Linked DNA regions of Homo sapiens: all the other regions are linked to region 1. Evidence: fine-mapped expression QTL. A gene starts in region 1. Each other region holds a variant in brackets. All regions are shown on one strand. Distances are between the middles of the regions. Region 1 holds the start of RRAGD (Ras related GTP binding D). Region 2 overlaps RRAGD (Ras related GTP binding D). Region 3 holds the start of UBE2J1 (ubiquitin conjugating enzyme E2 J1).

Region 1 (8,276 bases):
CAGGAGAATCACCTGAACCCAGAAGGTGGAGGTTGCAGTGAGCCGAGATCATGCCACTGCACTCCAGCCTGGGCAACAGAGTGAGGCTCCATCTCAAAAGAAGGAAAGAAAGAAGAAAAATGAGCAGGAACGAAGTGTCTGTGCTAAAAGTGAAATTGATTGTCACCAGCATTTACTATGGGCTGGGGGAGGATTGAATAACACAGGGGGTGAACTTGGGGCAGACTCAGTTATCTTTGAAAGACAAAAGATGATCTCTCAAACCCAAAGTCATCGGCTCTTATCCAGAACTTGCTGTTTGTGCCTCCCGTTTCCATTAGACTACCCTCTATCTAGTATTAAAATGGAAGAGATCGCTAATAAAAGTAGAGAGTCAGTACTCTCTGATGCCCTGAATCACTGACACAGGTTTATAAAACATCTGATATAGAAAGATACTCTCTAAATACAGGCATTCGAACAAGTATTTACCTAAAGTTTAACTTTGGGCACATCATTTTAACCTATTATGTAGTTTCATCTGTTCCAACTCTTCTGTATTTCCAGGGCCAGAAGGAAATCTAAGAGATAAGCTGTGTCCAGGGCTGTAGTCAAGCCAGCTCTTTTTGGATAAGGCAGAATTACAAGAAAAGGGGCTTACATTTCCATATACTTGATCCTCTTCTAAATACTTCGCTCATTTCTAGCTCATGATAGGGCAGTAGAAAAGCCCCCTGGTATCTCTGAGCCATGATTTCAGTATCAGTATAACTGTTATCTCTACTTACTTCCAAGGAACAATGAAAAGGTGAATTCCCTAATATTTTTAAAATTATTTTAGGAAAAAGCCATGCACAGTCATGCATGCCTATAATCCTAGCTACTTGGGAGGCTGAAGCAGGAAGATTGCTTGAGCCCACAAGTCCGAGACCAGCCTAGGCAATATAGAGAGACCCAGTCCCTTCCCCACAAAAGGCTAACATTAATGAACTAATGATTAATACATATGAATTGCTGGATTCACCCCATCTACATCCTTCAGGAAGGAAGACCCTGGATCTTTCATGCCTCCAGAAACCACCTACACAGTCACTTCCTCAGACCCTAAGGGTGCGCACAGGCTGCTATGAAGGCAAAGACCGAACTTCACTGGACTGTGGGTGAGCAGCTTACGTTAGCCAAGTTTCTCCTAAAAAATGGGAGGGGTTTTGGGGGGAAAACAATTTTACTTTCTGATTAAATATGATCTTGTAATTGCTTTCCCTGTTATTACAGTTTTTAAAGCACAGTAATTTATCAAAAGATTTAAAGTCCATGAATCTAAAAATAATCATTATTTTTGGTGCAATTGTTTTTAACGGCCTAACCATTCCCTCCTCTCTGGTAGTTTTATCTGGAGTGTGGGGATTGAAGGTGAGACTCACCTTACCTGCAATTAACTACCATGAAAGGAAGGTTGAGAGGTGCCCAAATCTGCCCTAACAGAACTAATGTGCCTGAGAACACTTTTGCTATTCATGAATAAAATATGGAGTGGAAGCCAGAGAAGTGCAATTTAAGTCTCACCTTAGTTGCCCTATGTTTTCAAACTCAGTACAATGTGGTAAAATTTACAAGGCATACTCGGTTTAAAAATAAGACCAGAGGTTCCTTTATAAGTCCTACAGACTGAGGGAAATGAAAATTGCATTACATATCCACCTTTAGTCCACTTCTCTTGCACAGCTCCTGATAAATTGCTTTGCAACTTAACTGGCAATACTAGTTGGTCCCACATCCCACCCTCAGCCTCCCACCCACCAGGGTAGATTTCTGAACTTAGTGGAAAAAGTCCCACGTCTCCACTAAGTGCAGGCACTAAACCAAGCTATTAGGAAGGGGAAAGGGGAGTGGGGGTTCATTAGAGAAATGCTTTGCTAGTGGTTCAAAGTACATCTTTTCTCAGAATAACTCCTTTTTTTCCCTACATTCTATTTCTTAAGTTTGAGAGTAGGTAAATGTAAATTTTACCAAAAATAAAACAAGATTATAATGCAACACGTGAATCAGCCTTTTGAAGGGCACAGGAAGGGAAGTCACAACTCCCAACCTCCTCCTCCCAATCCCCACTCCCCAGACCATATCAGCTGGCCTGACAGCCATCAGGAGCAGTCCTCGCTGGAATTGCTGACTGAGGAGCCTATCTGACACTAGAGAGCAAATGTCCTGACAAGGGATTCTGCATCAAGGCCTAAACCCAAAAGTCAAAGCCAGGGAAATCTGGAAAGAACAGAGGCCAAAATATAACGGAGGAAGTCTGAGAAGCAGACCACCTATCCACTGCAGGCCCAGGTGGACAGAGACCAGGCTTAAGCAACGTTTGCCGAGCAAACATGTTGCTCTTCTCACAATATAAATATATTTAATCCTTTTATAGCAAGATCCCAAGCTGATCCCAAAAGCCCATTCAGAAGGATTTTATTATGCGAGTCACCAAAAATCAGTTACAGGCAAGTTTGCCTTTACGTTAACAGCTAAGGAGCCTCCAAGTCTGGGCTCTGGGGAAGCCCTTTGTTCCGGGAATCCCATCCCTCAAGCAGGGCTTTAATTTCACTTCAATTTCAAGTCCCCAAATCAAATTTTAAAAGTGCCCACTTAAAGAACTGCAGAATAAACGAGGGGTCCAGTACTTTTTCTGGACCCTCCAGGCCTCAGGACAGTATCAAATTACAGGGCTTTCCCTCCTGGATATGGCCCCTCCGCCCCCCCACTTTTTTTCTTTTTTAAAAAAGAGAATCCCACACACACCCTACTGTGTCCACCATTTCAAATACCTTGCAAATACATCCCTATTCTGCATCTCTCCGGAGTCTTCTAAGAATCTGGGAGGAGCTAACAAATGGAATTTGAATAATAATGAGGCGACTGAACAATTTAATTACGGAAGGTAGCTCTAGAGACTCCAATAAAACGGCTGAAAGCCTTTATCTACAAAAATGTGGCCTGGTGCTCAACGGTAAGACCAATTACCGGGAGTGCAGAAGACAGAAAGCACAAAGGTGCACACATCAGTTTAAGCAAATGAGGAATTAGCACAAATCATCCCAAGAGAGAAAACGCTATGAAAAAGGGTGACTTGAGAGGCTGCTTTCTCATCTACCAGGCGCAAGGCATAGTTAACTTTATTTCCTTTCTGATTCATTGAAAGTCGTGCCTGCCAGATGTAGAATAATGAAACTACCCTAGTGAGAAAAGCTTTGCATAGAGAATTTAAAATAAGTTCAGTGAATTCTCAATAAAAGTTCTTTAAAAATCAATAGTCACAAAGGTACTTGTATCTCTCACACAATTTCTTCAGTGTGAAACATTAAAGTTAGTTCCTTCTCTTGGATGCATACAGTTTCACTGAGAATAACATCATGTTTAACAGCCGCTTTCTATTGACCTTTCCAAGTGACCTTACAGTAAAGGAACTTTTGCTCGCTTCTGAGGGAAACTAAAAAAAGTTTAACCTCTCTGGAATACTAAAAGGCTCTCAACTTCCTTACACCTTAAGAAAATGCAGGAAGCCCCCACAAGCTGAACGATTGCTAAAACCCGCTTCTAGAACAGGAAAAAGAGTTTGCTTCACTATTGAAGCAAAGAATTCCCCGCCGCGCGCTCACTCCCGGGCAGGCACTGCCATGTCCAGGTGGTGATACCGAGAGCAGATAAGGTGTCCTGACAACGGTGTTTGCGTGGATCCCGGGAAATCTGCGGCCTCTCGGAGACTCCCACAACAGCTTGGCGAGCATCCCCCCGCCGCCCCGCGGGTCTCCCCAGCCACTACCTGGGTGGGCCCCTCCCGCGGCGACGCGGGGCGAGACTGACACCCGCAGCTGCCGACGACCCTGCCAGTCACGCCGCCGCCGGCTGCCTTTTTTTAGCCACGACATCTGACCCTGGCTTCAACAGCACCGTTCTGGGAGAGAGGTCCCAGGGCGCGCCCGCGGTCCCCTCCCCTCCCCAACCGCCAGACGCTGCGGAGAGCTTGGGGTGAGGGGCGCGGGAGGCACCGGCTCTGAAAGGGGCAGAAGCGCGCGCTCCTCCAGCCCAGACGCTTACTCCCTCCTTCCCCTTTTCCACCGATCCTGGTTGCCCCTCCGCCACCAGCACCGCGCTCCCTCATTTGGCAGCTCGAGGTCGGGCTTTTGGCGTCCCTCCCCACCCCAAACCCTCAACTGGACCCGCTCCCCTGGACCCCCTCCAAGTCGGTGGCTCGCGCACGGCCGGGCTGGGGGCGGGAAGGCGCCAAGGGGAGGAAAGGGGCGCGAGCCGAGGACGCGGGGGCCGGGCGCTCACCTCCCTCCTCTGTGCCGCTGTCCGGATCGGCGTCGGAGGAGTCGGGCCCGTCTCCGTAGTCCGCTAGCCCCACCAGCTCATCCTCCTCCTCCTCCTCCTCCGCGTCGTCCTCGTCCTGCGGCTGCGGCTTCCCCAGCACCTGGCTCATCGTGCCCACCGGCCGGCCGGCCCGGGGACGGCGGGGGTCCCGGGGTGGGGGCCAAGCCTCCTAGCCGGCCGCCCGCAGCCTATTTCTGAAGCGGAGGTTTGTCTAGAGCTCAGCGGGGCCCGGCGGAAGCGGGGGCCGCGCGTCCCCCGGCGGGCGGCGCCCAGGTCCGGGTCCCGCGGTTCCCAGCGCGCCCGAAGCCCCCTCCCCCGCCCCGCCCGCCGGCGGAGGAGTCAGCCGGAGCGCGGCAGTTCCTCCCGGAGGAGGGAGAGAGAGAGAGACTGCGTGACCCGAGTCACCTGACACACACTGTCACATACTCACATACACACCCCGCACGGGCGCGCGCGCGCTCGCCCGGCCGCGGGCACCACTCGGCGGGGCGCTGGGCCGAGGACACACATGCACACGCACACGCACACGCACGAGGAGACCGGGGAGGCGCGGGGCCCCTGCACCCTCCCAGACTCACACCGACACACGCCCCGTACACGGGGCCCCCGGGACGCCGGCCGTCACCCACCGCGGCTGCGCGCCAGGGGCCCCCACGCGCCTCTCCTTCACGTGGTCCCCGCACAGGCAGGGGAGGGGGCGCCGCACACCCTCAATGTCCCCCCCGCCGTCCCACTCCCACACGCCCGCAGAGCGTCTACCGTGGGCGGATGCCTCCTGCTTACAGTCCTGAGCTAGGGTCCCAAGCGGGTGGCCTCCCAACACTGTGGCGCCCAGATCCCCCACCCCAGAGCAGCGTGCCCAGGACACCCTGTGGACGCTCAAGAGCCCCAGGCGGAGAACTCAGATAAATGCACAGTGGAGGCGCAGTCTCCATAGCAATTGTCTTTTAGTGTGCCTTTATGGTTCAAAGTGCTTCCCACCAAGAATATTTAAAAAGCAGGCCTACCCAGACGTAAATGTTTCTGAAGAAATCACATGACTCGTGGCTGCTTAGACTAAATAATTCCTCTGCAGCCCTTTGGAAAAGGTCTCAGTGTATAACACACTCGGGGGCTATTCATGGCCACCTCCTCATGTCTCATTGTTGCATAGACTGTAATCCCACATGAATAAAATATTTCAAGGCTTTTGTGGGAGTAGGGGAGTGGCGGTGGTGGGGGGGCAATTCTCAAATAGGAATAGCAGCAACGTGGAGTGAGACTCTAAAACCTGCATTCCTCCTTCACAAGCTTTTCACCACGGAACACACTGTACCCACCCTTTCTGGGTACTGCAAAAAATTACGTGGATGAACTTCCTTCTGTGGAGCACAATAAGAAAAAACCGGCCGGTCAGCATGATGATCCAGCTCCTACAGGTGCCAGCAGCTCAGCCGGTGGTGCGGTGCAGAAGCGGAGGGAGGAAGCTAGGGCAGGAGACTCTCAGGGCCCAAGGGTGCTAACCTCCATAGGAAACATTTATTAACCACCTCCTATATGCCTGAGGCTGGGCTAAGTAGAGGGTCCAAGAATGCTCAGGGCAGTGTTCCTGCCCTGAAGGAGCTCACAGTCTACCAAATCATGACTCATGTCCTGGATTTTTTTTAGTATTTCTGAGTGCAGAAGGTGGATGCAGACACTTTCCAGAAGGTGGCTGCTTCTAATGGGAAAGGTCCTGAGATTTTCCAAGGGAGGCAGGCAGTATAATTTGGTATGACTGTATCAGTTAAGGTTCTTCCCAGGATGAAACAGACGGTATGTGCAAAGACTTTAACTGAAGCCTTCAAGTGAAGGAACAATTTACAGGGGTGTGGACAGAGTTTAGGGAATCAATGCAGGTATTAGCGATAGTGGGAAGATAACACCACCCCTAAATTTACAGGAGTGAGGAAGGGAGCTAGAGTCCTGGAGAGGGGCCACAAAACAGGAGCTGTAACTGATGAGGAAGCTGCTGCTGCCAGAACGGCCTCACATCAAGGAGAGAGCAAAGACCTCTCTTTCTCTCCATCCATCCTCCCTCCACTCTCCTGTGTCTCCCATTGGCCAAACCCATCTGGTAGCCAGAAGGCAAGGGAGCCTGGAACCTAGTCCAGGACAGAGATTGGATAGGGAGGGCAGGGAGTGGGTCCCTGGGTGGGGTGAGGTGCAAGGAGCATCACCAACACAAGCAGGCACTACATACTCCCATCAGAGGCAAGTTACTTATGCCCTTCTAAACCCGATTGCTTATCAATAGAACATCACTCCTTCTAAGGATTATTAGGAAGATTAAATGAGGCGGAAAAAAAATCTCAGGTACTTACAAAGCTCATTTCCTAGGAGTAATTTTCCTAGCCTATTTTCATCCCTTCCGTCAAAGGAAACCCCAGGGAGGAGGGCCTCCCAGAGTGTGGCTGAGGACTTTCAGCTATTCTATAGCTAGCCCACCATCCTCAAGTGGCCTTTGAACTGGTCTGATTCAAACTGCAAATAACAATTTAGGAGATCTAGAAGACTGTCCAAGGTCAACCCAGACTCAGACGTATAGGGCATTCCTGGGCAGGTTGCCAAGTGTGTAAGACCCATGGACTCAAGGGATCAGGAAAGGGCAGGTCATAATCCAACAGCCCCACTGTGCCTATGGACTAGAAAGGACAGAAATGTCTGATGATCCTCTAACTTCCCCAGGAAGAGAGATCTTAGAAGGAAACAATAGATTGGGGCACACTCCAAGATACTTGAGAATTGGACCATTCTTTTGTTTTTTTCTTTTAACATGGAGTCTCACTCTATCACCCAGGATGGAGTGTAGTGACATGATCTCAGCTCACTGCAACCCCTACCCCCCAGGTTCAAGCGATTCTCTTGCCTCAGCCCCTGAGTAGCTGGGACTACAGGCATGCACCACCACACCCAGCTAATTTTTGTATTTTTAGTAGAGACAGCGTTTCACCATGTTGGCCAGGCTGGTCTCGAACTCCTGACCTCAGGTGATCCACCCACTTCGGCCTCCCAAAGTGCTGGGATTACAGGCATGAGCCACCGCACCCAACCTGGACCATTCTTAAGAATAAGAATAAAATAAAATCCCACAAAAAAATCAGTAGAAGTCAAATCCTCAATTATATTCTACCCCAAGCTAAAGAGTCATATACAGATTTAAGATATTCTAATTTACTACCATTTCAGAAATGTATAGTTGAACAGAACAGGAAAAGCCTTGATTGCTTTTTTTCTTTTGCTGACATCATTTGAATACTGTCAGCTTTCAAAGAAGAGATATGTTGAAAATATCCTAGAAATAGAAGTTCTTGAATTTAAAAAATCATGTGTGTAGAATCTTTCTGAATTTAAATAAAAACTGAAAAACACTACAAGAACCCTGAAAGCCTTTAAGAAACTCAGCGTGGGATCTGCTCAGTGAATTGGCTGCTGCCTTGGCCGCTCTGCACTGGAGCTCAGCCTATGTCTGGGGATGTCTCCCCAGGAGAGTGCTCTGAAGAATGTGAAGATTGGTCTCTGGGCTACCCATGGTTTCTGCTGTGGTATGTAACCATGGCAAGTATGTAACCATGGCTTATACTTGACAGGTGCTTAATAAATGCTTATGGAAAAAAAGAGAGATGGGAGAAAGAAAAGAAGGAGAGAAGGAAGGGAGGGAGGAAGAGAAGAAGAAAAGAAGGGTGGGAAGAACGGAGGAAGATAGTATATGGCTCTTCACACAGATCTAGCCTATTTCTGAGAGAAACTTCAGGAAGAAATAGCAGCCAAGTTTTCTACTTGCTCCAAACCTTGGGAAATGCCACAGTGTGGGTAAATATGAAGTGTTAGCTACAAGAGAGCAACTAGGAATGAGCTGACATGCAAAAAGAGCATAAGTCTTAGGCCTTCATCTGTCCAAGACTGCCTGAGATCTGAAG
Region 2 (8,000 bases), 38 kb before region 1:
AGCTGCACAATAAAAACACCCAGGCACCAGGCACACCAGGAGGCCAGGCACAGCACAGCACTTCGGGAGGCTGAGCAGGGAGGATCACTTGAGGCCAGCAACCTTTAGCCCTGACTGCCATAAAGTGGTGGTGTGATGTTGAGAGAAAGTCATTTATATTTTCTAGGCCTGAGTAAAATCATCTGTGACATGAGAGGGTGAAACAAGGTGTATTCCTGTCTATCTTTAAAATTCCGTGATCTATTATATAATCTGTTCTTGTTTCTAGCAAGATGAAAATAAGGAGTAAAAGATGAACACCATTTAATTTACAGTTCTGAGGCCAAAGGACACAAAAGGCAATTTGGTCAGTCATGGTACACACAGGAAAAATACAGGACATCACTAAGCAGCAAGAAAATGTAAATTCACATAATATACCAGTTTTCAGTTAACAACTTTTAAAAATACTAATACCCAATATTGATAAGAACACAGCAAAATAAGTATTCATATTCTCTTCGCAGCATAAAACCAGAAAATCTTTCTGAAGAACATTTTGGTAATATGCATTAGAAGCCCCCAAAATGGGCCTACCCTTTTGATCTAAGTAATTCCACTTTAAATTTTTCCTTAGGAAACAACCAAAGATGCACATAAATATTTAGTGCAAAAGAGGTCATAATGATATTATTTATAACATTAAAATCTAGAAACAACATAGATGTCTGAAAATAGAAGAATCTAATACAATCATTAAAATGATGTGGTTAAAAAAAGACGGTGAATTGGAAACATGTCTGTAATAATTTAAGTGAAGGTTATAAAGTAGAATTCATCATACAATCTATCATAGTCCTTTTAGAAAATGCATATGCAAGAAAGGACTGGAAAAGTATACAGGAAATGTTAAGAGTAGTTATCTGAATGAGAAACATCGATAATTATTGTTTTTTTGCTAAATATTATTTCTAAATTTTCTAAAAGAATCTATTACTTTTCTGATAAAAATAAACAATGTAAATTAAGTTTTCATGGCCAATGAATTAGGAAAATTTCATGATATACGTAAGTGAAATATATGTAATATAAAATATAAATATTTTCATATTTGTATTAAATATAAAACTATATTAGAATATAAAACTATATTAGACAATATGGCCCCAGTTTTGTTGGAAGGAAGGAAAAAAAGGAATGAAGGAAGGGAGAAAAGGAGCGAGGGTAGGAGGGAGAGGAAATAAGAGAGAAGGGCCAGACGTGGTGGCTCACTCCTTTAATCCCAGCACTTTGGGATGTCGAGGTGGGAGGATCACTTGAGCCGAGGAGTTTGAGACCAGCCTAGGAAACATGGTGAGACCCCAATCTCTACCAAAAACAAAAAAAAATTCCAGGTTGTTGACATGTGTCTGTGGTCCTAGCTACATGGGAGGATGAGGTGGGAGGATCACTTGGGCCCGGGTGGTCAAAGCTGCAGAAAGCCATGACTGTGCCACTGCACTCCAGCCTAAGTAACAGAGCGAGATCCTGTCTCAAAAAAGAGAGAGAAAGGGAGAAAGAAAATCCCAGAAATTTAACATGGGTTTAGCTCTAGATGGTGAAATACCTGGTTTTATTCTACATACTTTCCTAAATTTTCAAAGCATTTTTAATTTAATGGGCTTATATTGCTTATAATATAGAAGAAAAAGGCTATTTCAGGATATGTTACTATAACATATTCAGGATATGTAACTATTTGTTGGAGATTTTCTTTTACCCAACAAATTAGTAAACCATACCCTATTACTAACAAAAGTCCCTAGCCATATCAGTAAGCTAGGGACTTCTGTTAGTAACTTTTGTTTAGATATTATAGAAGGGGGAAATTAGTTTAATTGCTTTTGTTTCAAAATAAAACTGAATTTGATCCTAAAAAAAATTTGGTGGAGTTAAATATATTCATGGTCTTCCCTTTCCGGAATCATGATGCCATCCCTGTGTTCTGAAGATTTAAGAAGTATTTTGAGGCTGAACAGAAGTCAAACCACCTGTTGTCCCCTCCTTTACATGGGAAGAACAAAAGATCACACGGTTACCTAAGACCTTCTAGAGGTGTGGAGCAAAGTGGAGACCTCCACCCTCAGTATAGGCTGGGAGTCTGCTCCCTGGTAAGAGACTTCATTCACAGCCTGGCAACAGTGCCCCAACTAGCTTCCCCCTAGCAGAGATGCCAAGGCCCCTGGGAGGATCATGGGGTTCCACTTCCACCTCGCTGCAATCGCAGATGCACCACTAGAGGGCAGGCCAGTTCACTGGCCCAGAAGCTGACACTGGGGGCAGGAGCCCGCCCCGCTCTGAACTCCAAGCCAAGAGGGCCTGTGACTGGCATCTGGAAGTTTCGAGGGCTATGCTGTTGTCCACCCACATTCAACAAACAATACATGCAGTAGCAGTCTGATGCTTCTTTTAATGCTTCTTTTAAATCACACCAAAAAGTTACCTTTTCTTTCAAAGCTTTCCTCTCTGACAAAGCAAACGAGAGCCAGGAACTTTGTCACCTCTTTTAAATAAAGCACGGTTGTATTATTAAGCTTTATGATGGCTGTGGATTCCTTGTCATAGGGGGTTCCTGCTCCATCTTCTTTGAGACTAAATGGGGACAGAAACCAAAACATGTGACCATTGAGAAAGAACTAGAAACTGTAAGCCAGTGACAAGAGACCGGCTTTAAGCCACAAAAAGTGATAATCATAAGTTGTTTACACTTGCAGTGCCTTTCAGCAAAAGAGCTCAGAAACACACAGGCACAAAAACATACACAGTCCTCAACAGTCATTTCCTACTGACAATGAGTGGCTGTCTGCAGCAGCTGGGACACTCTCCAGGCACCTGAAGAAGCCAGTTGAAGGATGAGGTTAGCTCTCCCCACCTCCGTGGCCAAGGGCTTCTTGTTTTCTCACCTAGAATAGCCAGGCTGTCAAAAGCGTGGTCTGATGAAAGACTAAGAAAGGCTGAAGATATGTTCCAAATTCAAGGAGTCTAAAGAGACCTGAAAGCCAAGTGCTAGACTGGATCCTGAATTGGGAAAAACTGCTATAAAAGATAGAATTGGGACCACTGGTAAAATCTGAATATCGTCTATATATTAGATAATAATGTAGCCATGCTAAATTTGCTGAACTGTGAACTGGTTCAATTTACTCTCAAATGGTTCACTGAAAAGAAATAGATACACAATATGTATTAGAAAAAGAGAGATGCAGCAAATATGGCAAATTGGTAAAAACTGATGAATCCCAGTGAAGAGTTATACAGGAGTTCATTTTACTACCCTTGTATATTTTCTGTAGGTTTTAACTTTTTTTCAAAATAAAGAGTTAAATAAGATATATAGGTCTATTTGGCCAGGCGCAGTGGCTCACGCCTGTAATCCTAGCACTTGGGAGACAGGTAGATCACGAGGTCATGAGTTCAAGACCAGCCTGGCCAATATGGGTGAAACCCCATCTCTACTAAAAATACAAAAATTAGACAGGCACCACGTGGTGGCGCACACCTGTAGTCCCAGCTACTCGGGAGGCTGAGGCAGAAGAATCCCTTGAACCCAGGAGGCAGACGTTGCCGTGAGCCGAGATTGTGCCACTGTACTCTAGCCTGGGTGACAGAGCAGGACTCCGTCTCAAAAAAAAAAAAAAAAAAAGATATATAGGTCTATTTAAGAAAAGGTGTGGTGTGCAGACACAAGTGACTTGGGTTTGAATCTCATTTCTTTTATTTGCTAGCTATGTGAGCTTGGACAAGTCGAATAACTTCTTTGAGCCTCAATTTCCTCATATGTACACTAA[CAG/C]TAATTATTTCAAAGTTTTCTAATGAAGATTAAATGAAATAATGCATATGTAGCACTAAGCATAATGCTGAGAACATAAAATACACACTTATTATCATGGCTTTAATGACTGAAACTGGACCCTCTGAAGATACCTGTGTAATAAAAGTGTTATGAATCCTTTCCTCACAGGCAAAGGACACTTCCCTAAACCTTTTCCCCCTTACCTAAAACTGTACATAAATTTTCTGATTTATTTTTACTCCCCAAATTTATGAATAACTGACCAGAAATTTGACTTAATTGGAATTGTGTTAAACCTTACCACATTCACTGAGAACTAGCATTTATTAAAGCTTACTATGTGATATTAACCATTCTTAGTTCTTAAAATGCATTATCCTCTGTCTGCTATAAGAATCCTCTAAGTTTCTAAGGAAACTGAGGCTAGGGGAAAATAAGATAACTTGGTCAAAGCTGACGATAGGGGTAAAGTCAGGACCTCAAACCTAGATATGGCTAATTTCAAAGTTAATGCTTTAATCCTGTAAATACACAAGGGGGTACAGTATCAAGCCAGATTTAATGAAAAGCCTGAATTGCACAAGAGTATTTTTAGGAAATGTAGGTTTTTAGTTTTGAGAGTATTTTAAGCTGCCATATACATGGCCACTTAAAAGTAAATTGTGAGGGTGGGCACGGTGGCTCAGGCCTATAATCCCAGCACTTTGGGAGGCCGAGGTGGATCGCCTGAGGTTGGGAGTTCGAGAACAGCCTGACCAACATGGAGAAACTCCGTCTCTACTAAAAATACAAAATTAGCTAGGCGTGGTAGTGCATGCCTGTAATCCCAGCTACTCGGGAGGCTGAGGGAGGAGAATCACTTGAACCCGGGAGGCGGGGGTTGCAGTGAGCCGAGATCATGCCATTGCACTCCAGCCTGGGCAACAAGAGCGAAACTCCATCTCAAAAAAAAAAAAAGTAAATTGTGGAAGTTCGTATTTTTTGTTTTTTTTAAAGGATTCAACTCACTATAACCTACCAAAACATTAAAGAAAAACCTTTTAAGTGCTGGACATCAAATGTTAAAGATGCTTTAACAGAATTCATTAACTTCCATTGCACTGTTTTAACTACTATATTTTAAGGCTCAATCTCTCTTGCTTATAAGTAATGTTCTGAGAACAAGAAACTGAAACATTTAACATGTTTTACCCAATGAAGAAAATAGCATTTAAAATTTCCAAGTAAATATAATACTATATAGATATTAAACACTGTTTATTAACAGCATTTAATAATACAGGAAAATTATCAGGTGGTAATGTTAAATGAAAAAAGCAGGATGAAAAATTTCACATACAAATGTGATCTCATTATCCTAAAAATTACACATGGAAATAAGAACAAACTATATAAAATGTAAACACTGACTGTCTCTAGGTGGTGAGATTATGGGCTACTTTAATTTTATTCTTTAGACTTTTATGTATTTTCTGCAATAAGCATGTATTACTTTCACAATCAGAAAAAGGTAAACATTAAACAAATTAGAAAAACAGACTCCACCAAAAATTACAAGTAGAAATTGATGAGGTTTGCAACTGCAAAAACTGTTTTACTACTCAAGTTTTTCATCTATAAGCAATGAAAACACATGAAGATAGAACATATTTTAAAGTGTGTGCATGTGTGTGTGCATATATGTGCGTGTGCATGTGTGTGCATGAGTGAGCACAGAGCTGCCAGCTGGGGCACAGCCTCAGCTGAGAGATTCCTGAGGCACCAGGTCACCTGATTCTAGGGCCTGCTGGTCTCCACTGGGCAGGTGGGGAGGGGCAGCAAGGCCTCCAGTTACAAGGGCACCTGCTTCCTCATTGCCTAAGAGGGCCCCAGGCTCTGCACACAACCCTGCCTCCTGCTGGTTAACAGGACTGGCTTGTTGCTGCTCCAGCAAACAATCTGAGGAAACCCCAGAGCCCACAAACCATCTGTGACCCAGACTGGTTCTTACTGAATCCTGTGGGTTCTCAGAACACTGTACTCCACCACAGAAAAACCAATCTGACGGCAAAGCCAGGCCACCTCCTCCTAACCCCTCCCTCCCCATGTTTGTTTTAGCTGGGTAAAAGTAACTCTGATTAACATCATTTACATGAACAACTTACCACTTACAGCTAATGACCATATGGCACAATAATGATCATGCACATTGTTAAGCATGTGCCAGATTAATTGTGTTGTTCATTGTACTTGATTACCATGGCAATCTGCACTGTAATCAGGGTGCGTTCATCTTCCATGACTATTTCAAGGTCATCCATTTAAACGGTTTAAAAATAATAGAATGCTTCAGGGCAGTAATCTTGGGCAATAAGGTTTATTTCTAAAGCCAGATGTCAGCGTTTAATTATAACAGTAATAATAAATTATGGCAGCTACATTTATCCAGAGTCTACCAGGTAAAGGCACGTTATGAGCCTAATGATATTTCATCCTCAATACAATCTTGTAAGTATCACTTTCCATGTGTGTGTGGTGTGTGTGTGTGTGTGTGTGTGTGTGTGTGTGTGTGTCTAACAGTTAACAGAGAGAATCCGAGCTGAGTGGGCAAAGGATTTTTAAGCAATGGAAGAGAAAAATGGAGACTAGACTCTCACAAAAGCTGAAAGGCAGAGCGTCAAGCTGTGTAAGGCAGGTCACAGGCAGTGAGTAAAGAGGAAGATGAGCAAAAGCTTTACCTCATCGATTAGATGAGGATGTCAGATACAATACAGATAGCAACACCTTAACATCTTAATAAGATGAACAACTAGTTCACACCTAGTCAGTCTGTACACCACCTGTTCAGCACATTTATAATTATGTAGAATTGTTTCTACATCGGGTAACATAATCAGTTTCCCCCACTCCTTGTTTATTTTATATTAAGTGTATAGGAAGCTCTGTTTTCTAAGAACGGTATGTTAACAGATTTTTTTCAGCAGAGGATCAGGAATCAGATCTGAGTTGAAACTCCAGTTCCAATCCTTACTGATAGTGTGAGCAAGAGTAAGAAATGTAACCACTCTGAACCTCAGTTTTTTCATCTGTAAAGTGAATACACTACAGTTGACCTTAAACAACACAGATTTGAACTGCCTAGGTCCACTTATACATGGATTTTCTTCCGCTTCTGCCACTCCTAAGACAGCAAAATCAACCCCTTCTCTTCCTCCTCCTCAGCCTACTCAATGTGAAGACAATGAGGGTAAAGACCTTTATGATGACCCACTTCCATTTAATAAATAGTAAATATATTCTTTCTTATAATTTCTTCTCTGTAGCTCACTTTATTGTTAAGAATACAGTGCGTAATACATAACATACAAAATGTGTGTTAATCAATCATTCATGTTATTGGTAAGGCTTCCAGTCAACAGTAGACTATTAGTATTAATAGTTAAGTTTGTCAGGGGGGAAATATATGTGGCTTTTTGACTGTTCAAAGGGTTGGTACCCCAACCCCTGTGTTGTTCAAGGGTCAAATGTAATTCCTGCCACATCGAATAGTTGAGAATTAAATGATAACCTGGGCACAGTGGCTCATGCCTATAATCCCAGCTACTCGAGAGGCTGAGGTGAGAGGATCATTTGAGCCCAGGAGTGATCTATCCTGGACAACACAGGGACACCCTATTGCTAAAAAATTGAAATAAATAATAGGAAGCATGCAATGAGATTAGCATAATGCGTGGCATTTGCTCAATAACTGTTATTATTGCATGCTAACTGGTATATTTATTTATAGATTTCAGTCATTTAAGACAAAAATGTTAAAGTTAAGTAAGTAAATGTAAATGCAAAATGCCTGAAAGGTTATGAAGGAAGGATGGCTTGATTGTGGCCTTTAAGAATGTTGTACTTACCCATAAATACAAGAGATGTCAATAACCACATCTATCATATCACAGCAGAGCTCATAGGTTTGCATATCCACCGGAGTACTATCAGTTGCAATATAAATTTTACTGACCACATCAAATAGAAATGCCTTTTCAATTCCAGAATTCTGAAATTTAAAAAAAAAAGTTGCCTTAAAGCAACAGTCAACTTCAGACCATGTCATGACTACACAAAATTGAATGCCATTCTTAATGTAAAATACAAAATGAGCAAAACTCGCTACTAAAAATTTAAATTGTATCATTTTATTACAATTTAAACTTCACTG
Region 3 (8,276 bases), 62 kb before region 1:
ACCCAGGAAGTGGAGGCTGCAGTGAGCTGAGATCGTGCTGTTGCACTCCAGCCTGGGCAACAAGAGCGAAACTACGTCTAAAAAAAAAAAAAAAAGCCCTCCAGGCCGGAGGGCAGTGGTACGAACACAGCTCACTCACTGAAGCCTCAACCTCCCAAGCTCATGCAGTCCTCCCACCTTGGCCTCCCCAATAGCTGAGACCACAGGCATGCACCACCATGCCTGGCTAATTTTTAAATTTTTTGTAGAGCTGGGGTCCCCCTGTCTTGCCCAGGCTGGTCTCGGGCAATCCTCCTACCTCAGCCTTCCAAAGTGCTGAGATTACAGGCGGGAATCAGCATGCCTGGCCAAAAAAAAGTTGTTACTATCCTACTTCACAATTATTAATATTCTTTTCCATTTCTTACTCTGAACTAAGCCCCTATATGCAGAGACTTTGTTCACTGGATCATCAACTATTTCTTGAGTTCCTACTAGGTACTAGATGCTACAGCTTCATGCGTAAACAAAATATGGCTTTGGTCACTAAAGACTGACGGCTGGGAGGTGCAGTCAATACAAAACAGAATGATAAATGCTATATTAGAAATATGTACATACTGAGACACCCTCTCCCTCCAAGTCTAGAGACTGGGCTTTGGTCAATTCCCTGAACACACTTTACCTCCCCTCCACTCTCAGCCTTTCTATACAGCTTTCCTCAGGGCCCAGGCTGCTCCGGCCCCATCCTCCGCCTCACCGTCTAGTCTGGCTACCCTAGACCTTTAAGTAACTTCTCAGGAATGTCTCTATGACACCTTCCCTGGTTGCCCCCTGCCCCCCACCCCCTACAGTGCTTGGAGATTTCAATCTGGGCAGATCAAAATCTCTGAGGCGTCCTAGGGAGGGGTAGAGACTAGGAATGCTCTCTGAATTACTCTGGTTAGGTTTAGAAACCACTGCCCTAGAGACCAGGTTGAGTCTCCTTGCTCTATGCCATCATAACACTGTATTTTTCCTCTTATGAAGTTCATCTCACTTGTAATTACTTGTTTAATATCTGTTTTTCCTGCTAAGCAATAGTAATGACAGTGTAGCTGTAGCAGTACAGTCTCCTCAGGGCTTAGCACATGGTAAGTACTCAAATATTAGTTGAATTAAATTTTACTATCTTCTCTCAACATAGCTCTCAGAATCCGATTAAAGGCAATGGTTTTTAAACTTACTTAATAAAACAATTAAACTTATTTAATAAAACAAAATCCTTCATTCAAAGAAAGCTTAATGAGAACCCCAACAGGTGAAACAAAAACCACAGAGCCGCTTTGGTTGCAGAGGCCAGTGGAAGGGCCTGCGGACTATCTACTCCCTGTCCTTCCATTTCACTCCTGAAGGGACCCATAGAACAAAGATGGAAAACCCTGCTTTAAAGCCACATAAACATATCATTCCTTTAAGTTAATATTATTAGATAGAAATGCAATTATGGAAGCTGTTATGAAGTTAATTAGTTTGGAGATGCCAAAAAGATTGTTTTTCCTTCATTCCTCGTCAACTGGCTGAACTCAATAATGATTAAGCTGAAGTCAGATTTTATGTCATTCTATACCCTTATCGCATTTTCTCTGCCTCTTCCCTACTCAGTTCAGTTCAACAGGAGAGAAGAAAATAAACACTCAAAACTTGTACCTGGATATTATGAGAGATGTATAAAGGGTCAGAATTGTTATAAGAATGTATCTGTACCAATCCTGTAAAGGAACAATCATTGGTTCAACAGCTAAATAGCTAATTAGTTCATAAGTCACTCAGGCACATACCATGTAAGAGCTAAGGTCATGTAGCCAAAAGGTGAGATTAGTCTCTTGTTTCCATAAGCTATTTTTTTTGCAAAAATAACATATATTATGAATGCTTCAGTGAAAAGAAACAGGGACTCGATTTAGAGCTGCATTAAAATTCTGACTCTGACATTTTGTAGCTCTAAGTCCTTGAACAAGTCACTTGATCTGATGTTTACATCTGTCAAATAAGAGTCAATAATTTCTCCACAAAATTCTCCTTTCCTTTTCACCCCTCCTTCCTGCCCAGTCCCTGAGTCATTAAGGTTGAAAATGGACTGGTATATAAGGCCTTCTCAATGATTCTTCCTAACTCAAAACCATGCCTCAGCAGATTTCGCTGGCCTTATGATATGGCTCCCTGGCTCCTGAGGAGAAATACCACTGTTAGGAAACAGTCATGGTTCACAGTGCTGCCTGGCAACCGGGCTACAGCATAGTCTGCCCCTCCTGATACTCCATCTCTTGCTTCTACATGGCTAGAGAGGAAACTTTTATTCCAGCTCCTCTCCTATCTCTTGGAAAGGTTTTTCCATGGAATCCTTTCACTGTGGTGAGATAAGATGTGCCAGGAAAGGAAGGGGTGGCACCTGGATGCCTGCTCTTGTTCTTCTTTCTTATAGAGGCCACATGGACACTCTGGAGCCATGCTCTAGGTGCTGTGGGCCTAGGCATTAGCATTCTTCACACACCTTGGCTAGCTCACTAGCCTCACATTGGGGTTTGTATACAGCTAAAAATAAAGGGATCTTCTACAGGCCACTGCTTCCCATATATGGATTCCTCTTCAAAAGCAATTATCTTGATATTATCAATTCCCAAAGCATGAGTGAAATGCAGGAGACAGGTATATTAAGGAAGGCATGCTCCCTAACTGCCTCTTCCTGCTCCCATAATGAAGGTACTTAAGCAAATGCCTACAGAGTGATGTTTCTGCCCAGGAGGACCCTGCAAATGTATCAGTTCAACAAACATTTAAAGAATGTCTGAGTGTTGGAGATAAAACAATGACCAAGACCTGCTTCTTGTCTTCCGTAACAGTCAGTAGAGAAAGACATGAAAATAATTACAACCAAGTGGTAATATTGACCAAGTATATATGTACAAGTATATATAGGAACTACTTTAGTCTGCCTAGGGGAGCTAGACAAGGCTGAACCTTAAAGCTTGAAGAACTATAGGAATTTCAGATGGATTTAAAGGAAGGCATTCTAAGCAGAGGTTCCAACAGGAACCAAAGCACCTAAGTGAGAAAAGCTACTCCAGCTAGAGAGTCATTCAGGCAAAATGGATAGGTAAAAACGCAGGCCTGGTGCAGTGGCTCTCACCTGTAATCTCACCACTTTGGGAAGCCAAGGTGGAGGGAACACTTGAGCTCAGGCGTTTGAGACCAGCCTGGGCAACATGGTGAAACCCTCGTCTCTACAAAAAATACACAAATTAGCTGGGTGTGGTGGCACACACCTGTGGTCCCTGCTACTCGGGAGGCAGAGGTGGAAGAATCACTTCAGCCCAGGAGGTTGAGGCTGTAGTGAGCTGTGATGGCACCACTGCACTCCAGGCTGGGAGACCCTGCCTCAAAAAAAAAGAAAATGAGGAAGAGCATAAGAGTGGTGGACAGTGAGGCTGGTGAGGAAGGGCAGGGTCAATCATGAGCAGCCCTGTAGGCCAAGCTAAGCAGTTTACTTTGAACTTTATTGACAGCTATCAGAAAGCTACTGAAAATTTTTCAATTTGGGGGTAATCAGTTTTTGTTTTGATTGATCTGGTGACAACAGTGACTGATTAGATATATGTGTTTCTGTGTGTGTATTGAGTTGTGTGTTTCAGGGCAGGGATGGAGCAAGGAAGCGACCAAGAAATAAAAAATGACTCCCATAGGTGCCTGAGTGCTGTCTATCCCTGAGATATGAAATACTAGGGTAAACTGCAAGTTTAGGGGAGGAGAAGAAAACTGATGAGTTTTGTCTTTATACTTACAGAGATTTTTTTCACTCTATGGGAAATGAAGATGTTGAGTCACCATAAGTTCTGTGTATCTATAGCTTACGAGAAGGGCCTGAGTTGGACATGAAACCTTGAGTGGATTAGTGGGAAGGTGCAGTTGACACCAATGGCATGGATAGGTAACTCTTAGACTTCTGGTGGAGGCAGTGGGTACTTTTGCACCAGTCTCTTATACTCCCACCACCTGCTGCACATGTCAATGGCCCCCTGATGAAGAAGCTGCCAAAGGAGGTGCTTTATACACATTTCTTCACTTTGTACTATAAGACCCTACTTCCTTGGCCAGAGCAGACCCAAACACGGGTCAAGTAGCTTGATCCATAGACAACTATTGACAGATTATAGACAAGTAGCATGATCCATAGACAACTACTGCTACTACAGTAGCAGATCCATAGACAACTACTGACAACTACCACAGACAACTACTGTGAGGTGATCCTACACAACAGCTCTATCCATAATCACAAGTCCATTCCAAAAAAAAACCATAAAGCAAAAAGTTTCCCCACCTATGAAATGAAAAAATTTACTATATCCACATGCTAGTACACTGGCCCTTAACCAGCTATCTGTATTGTCTTCACTTAATCTTTCCACTCATACATCAAAGACAATCCCACATCAGATAAAGAGTAAAAGATTATATCCCTCACATTGTGTGGTTGTTTTTTGTTTGTCTGGTATGTTGGTATTTTACGTGTGTGTGTGTGTGCACCCTGCCATACACAGGAAATTGGAGTTTTCAGTTGCTCCCCTTCACACAGGCATTACTCTAAAAATACCACAGGACTGAGAATAAAGCAAAGGAAGGAAGTATTTTCACAATGCCTCCCAGCATTTTCAGTAAGTCCCATATCTTACCTAATTCAACTTCTCCATGAACTCCAAATAATTCACACACTAACAAAAATAGATTTTTAAGAAGCATTGTGT[T/G]TTTTTTTTTAGAGCAGCAACACTATCTTTGAGGAAATGAAACCAGAAAAAGGAAGCAATTTATGACACAGCTAGAAGCATGTCAACCAAAGCTCAACCAGCTGACAATAGTTCACATACTTTGGAAATATACAAAATTCTGGAGATTTTTAAAAGCTTATCATCATAGTATTAAGTCTAACCTATCGAAATTGAGCGATGTTTTCTGACAACAATCTCTTGGGTTCCACCAGTTCTCCATTCTAAACTGCACTACTACTCACATGTGCATTATCCTCTGGACCTTTCACTAAGCACCTCTGCTGTCCTAAGGAACCGTGTGACCAGGGAGCCACCATACATTTTTACCCAAACAGCTCCAGTTAAATATACCACAATGTAAATAATTCAATCATTTTACCATCTAGCTTAAAAATTAAGCTTTTCTTTCCCTCTTTCTCTTTGGTCTTTTCTTCCTCCCTCCCCACCCCGGGATTCTCTTTTTTTTTTTTTTTTTTTTTTTTTTTTTTGAGATGGAGTCTCGCTCTGTCGCCCACACTGGAGTGCAGTGGCGCGATCTCGGCTCACTGCAACCTCCTCCCCGGGTCAAGCCATCCTCCTGCCTCAGCCTCCCGAGTGGCTGGAACTACAGGAGTGCGCCACCACCATGCCCGGCTGATTTTTGTGTTTTTAGTAGAGACGGGGTTTCACCATGTTGGCCAGGCTGCTCTCCACCTCCTGGGCTCAAGCCTCCCAAAGTGCTGGGATTACAAGCGTGTGCCACCGTGCCAGGTCTTCATCAGATTTTTTTAAGGAGTCAGTGGCTCCTAAAATATTATGACCAGTTCTACACACTTGGTCACCTAAGGACATTTCTTAGCCTGACAGCACTCAGGCTAACAAAGCTCCCTCCAATCAATATCCTCAGGCTTTTCTGGGGTTTTTGCATATTCTGAAACCTTACAAAAAACCCAAAGATTCACAGTGTCAACTCTTTCCACAAGGATGCTAGTCTTGCTAATTCCTACTGAGAAACAGCTTTTTTTGGAAGGAAATTTTAAGCAACAGCAAAAGTTGGTGAAATCATCACTAATATCCTAGAGTTTATCATGCAGAGTTAACTGTGGAGTTTCTTCCCCCTGACAAAATGTATCAAGGTACAGATAGAAAAAATACCATTTAGAGGATCCAATGATTCATTTCAAGCCTGTTTTATTAAGCTGAGAAAGCTAGTTGCTTATCTTTATAATGCACCAGAAAGTAATTAGAGGCTAGGATTGCTGGGACTGCTTGTGTAAATATAAAGCAGGATCATTAAATGCAGGAAAGGAATCGCTACGACTGAATACAGATACATTTCATATTAGCCAGTCTGGCAAAAATCAAGGTTAGCTCTCAAGAACAGGGCTCAACGAGGTGTTTTTTTGTTGTTGTTTTGTTTTGCTTTAGCTCTATAGTTAACTGGTTTAGTTACAGAACATTTCCTTTATGTCTGTAATTGTATTCGCCCAAGTGCTGCAAATAGGATATTTAAACGACCAACTCCTCAAATGTGAGTAAATCAGCCGGCAGTAAATAGAAGTAAATAGAAGTCCGGTGGCAGCGACAGGGAGGGAATAGCGACCAGGTACAGCGAGGGGGTTGATGACTATCGCCCACCGACATCACCTTTACACCTGTTCTCAGGGATGAGTTTCTGACCCAGCTCTACGGGACCAGGCGAAGATGAGAAAAGGGAGAGGCTGGGTGCTGCGGGGCGCGCTGGCCGGCCGGGGGATTGGCAGCGGACGTCCACCCGGCCACCTCGCCCTGCGGCCTGTACTTCCCGGGCAGGCGGCGGTCTCGCGTAGAGCGCGAAACCAGGAGCTGAGCCGCGAGTGGCGCCAGACGCGAGGGGACCGAGGCGGCGACCACCCCGGGGTCCAGGGTCACTCCGCCCTCCTCGCCCAGGGGCCCCAGCCCTGCTCACCCGGACTCTTCAGGTTGTAGCGGGTCTCCATGGTGGGTCGCTGGCTTGGCTCCGGCCTCCCGGGCCGCTGCCACCTCCTCTCCACGCGGCCGCTGCCCGGGTCTCAGCGCGGCTCGGGCGGACGGGGCCTGGCCGAGGAGCCTCGGCAAATGCCGCCCAGTCCAGCCTGGACTGCGGGCGGGGTGGCAAGGCTGAGTGCGGGCGAGGCGCTCGCTTCGCGATGGCGCCGCCTCCTCCACTGCGCCCCCGCCTCCCTGAGTGCCTGGCAGGCACCGGCGCCGGCCGGGGCGGCGCTGAACCGGGCGCCCGGGCTGGAGGTCAGCCTCCTCGGGTAGTCGCAGGCCCAGCCCTGCCGCGGCCGCCCGGCTTGCGTCACCCGCCCTCGTCCGGGATTTGTGAAGTTGCCCTGACGTGGCAGTAGCTTCGTGGCGGTCGGTCACTACCCAGCCGCCGCCCGCCCGGCGAAGCCGGCTTGGGGAGGTGCAGGAGCGAGCGGCGTCCTCGTCCTCTCGTCCCGGCCCTGCCCGCTGTAGGCGAGGTCCGGGACCCCCGGGCCCTCGAGAGCTCGGAGGGGGCGCCGGGCTCCGGCTGCAAAGCTGTCCGCAGCCGGCTGCCCGCGCGCGGTCCCGCAGGGTCTGGGAAAGGCTTTGTTTTTAGATTCAGTTGCTGTTGCGAGGGGCGGGGGTTAAGTGAGGAGGGGGAAAGCCAGTGACAAGGAAATGGAATAGGATTTTTTTTATTTTTTATTTTGTGTGTGTGTGTGACGGTGTCACCGCTCTGTCGCCCAGGCTGGGATGCAGTGGCGCGATCTTGGCTCACTGCAGCCTCTACCTCCCGGGCCCAAGCGATCCTCCCACCTCAGCCTCCAGCGTGGCTGGGACCACAGGTGTGTGCCACCATGCCCGGTTAATTTTTTGTATTTTTGTTAGAGACACGGTTTCACCGTGTTGGCCAGGCTCGTCTCGAACTCCTGGACTCAAGCGATCCGCCCGCCTCGGCCTTCCAAAGTGCTGGGGTTACAGGCGTGAGCCACGGCTCTGGCCAGAGTTGGATATTCATAACAATTTTTTTCTCGGGTAGTGTGTTAGGTGCACGACATGTTTTAGGCATTGCAGGAGTTTTGTTTTTTTTGGTTTGTTTAGATGTAAAAGCTGTCAAAAAAAGGAATTACATTTAATGTGAGGGAAAGCATACAAATATGAAAGGTTAAACTTCAAAGGACACACTTACTGCTTCATTGTCCAATGTGTGGGATCGAGAGAGGACTGAGTTCAAAAGACTTAAGGAGTAGGGACCTTACTAAAGGAAAGGAGGGAGGGATTGGGAAGGTGGGGAGGATAGAAAGGGTTAATCAGGTTGGGCAAGTTTTATTCTGTTATATAAAGACATAAACTCTTAAATTTGATTTGTTTTCTATTGTTAAAGTTAATCTAAATCTGTGAGTTTCTTGATGAAATTGGGAGTAAAAAAGTGAAGGATATCTAAAATTAGATGGTATATTTTAAATCATTCCCTGATGTTGTTTTCTGTATAGTAAACTGATAATCTGACTGACTGAGATATGC

What was found.
Region 2: its variant is fine-mapped to the expression of RRAGD in whole blood (TOPMed, PIP 0.99).
Region 3: its variant is fine-mapped to the expression of RRAGD in whole blood (INTERVAL, PIP 0.94).

The regions. Positions count from the first base shown.
Region 1 is chr6:89,407,547-89,415,822 of GRCh38, forward strand. RRAGD (Ras related GTP binding D) reads right to left here and starts at 4,727. Exons shown (of 7, transcript NM_021244.5): 1 at 4,300-4,727. The coding sequence starts at 4,447. RefSeq lists silencers at 3,684-3,783, 3,814-3,923, 3,954-5,143.
Region 2 is chr6:89,369,976-89,377,975 of GRCh38, forward strand. It overlaps RRAGD (Ras related GTP binding D), which reads right to left. Exons shown (of 7, transcript NM_021244.5): 5 at 7,696-7,838; 6 at 2,462-2,610. Among named protein-coding and RNA genes, the nearest start is that of UBE2J1, 21 kb to the left of the region's middle. RefSeq lists enhancers at 2,115-2,409, 2,319-2,538, 2,909-3,028, 5,122-5,622, 5,623-6,123. The variant CAG/C (reference allele first, on the strand shown) is at 3,807.
Region 3 is chr6:89,345,828-89,354,103 of GRCh38, forward strand. It overlaps UBE2J1 (ubiquitin conjugating enzyme E2 J1), which reads right to left and starts at 6,895. Exons shown (of 8, transcript NM_016021.3): 1 at 6,712-6,895. The coding sequence starts at 6,742. RefSeq lists an enhancer at 6,201-7,150 and silencers at 6,447-6,506, 6,537-7,246, 7,257-7,356. The variant T/G (reference allele first, on the strand shown) is at 4,764.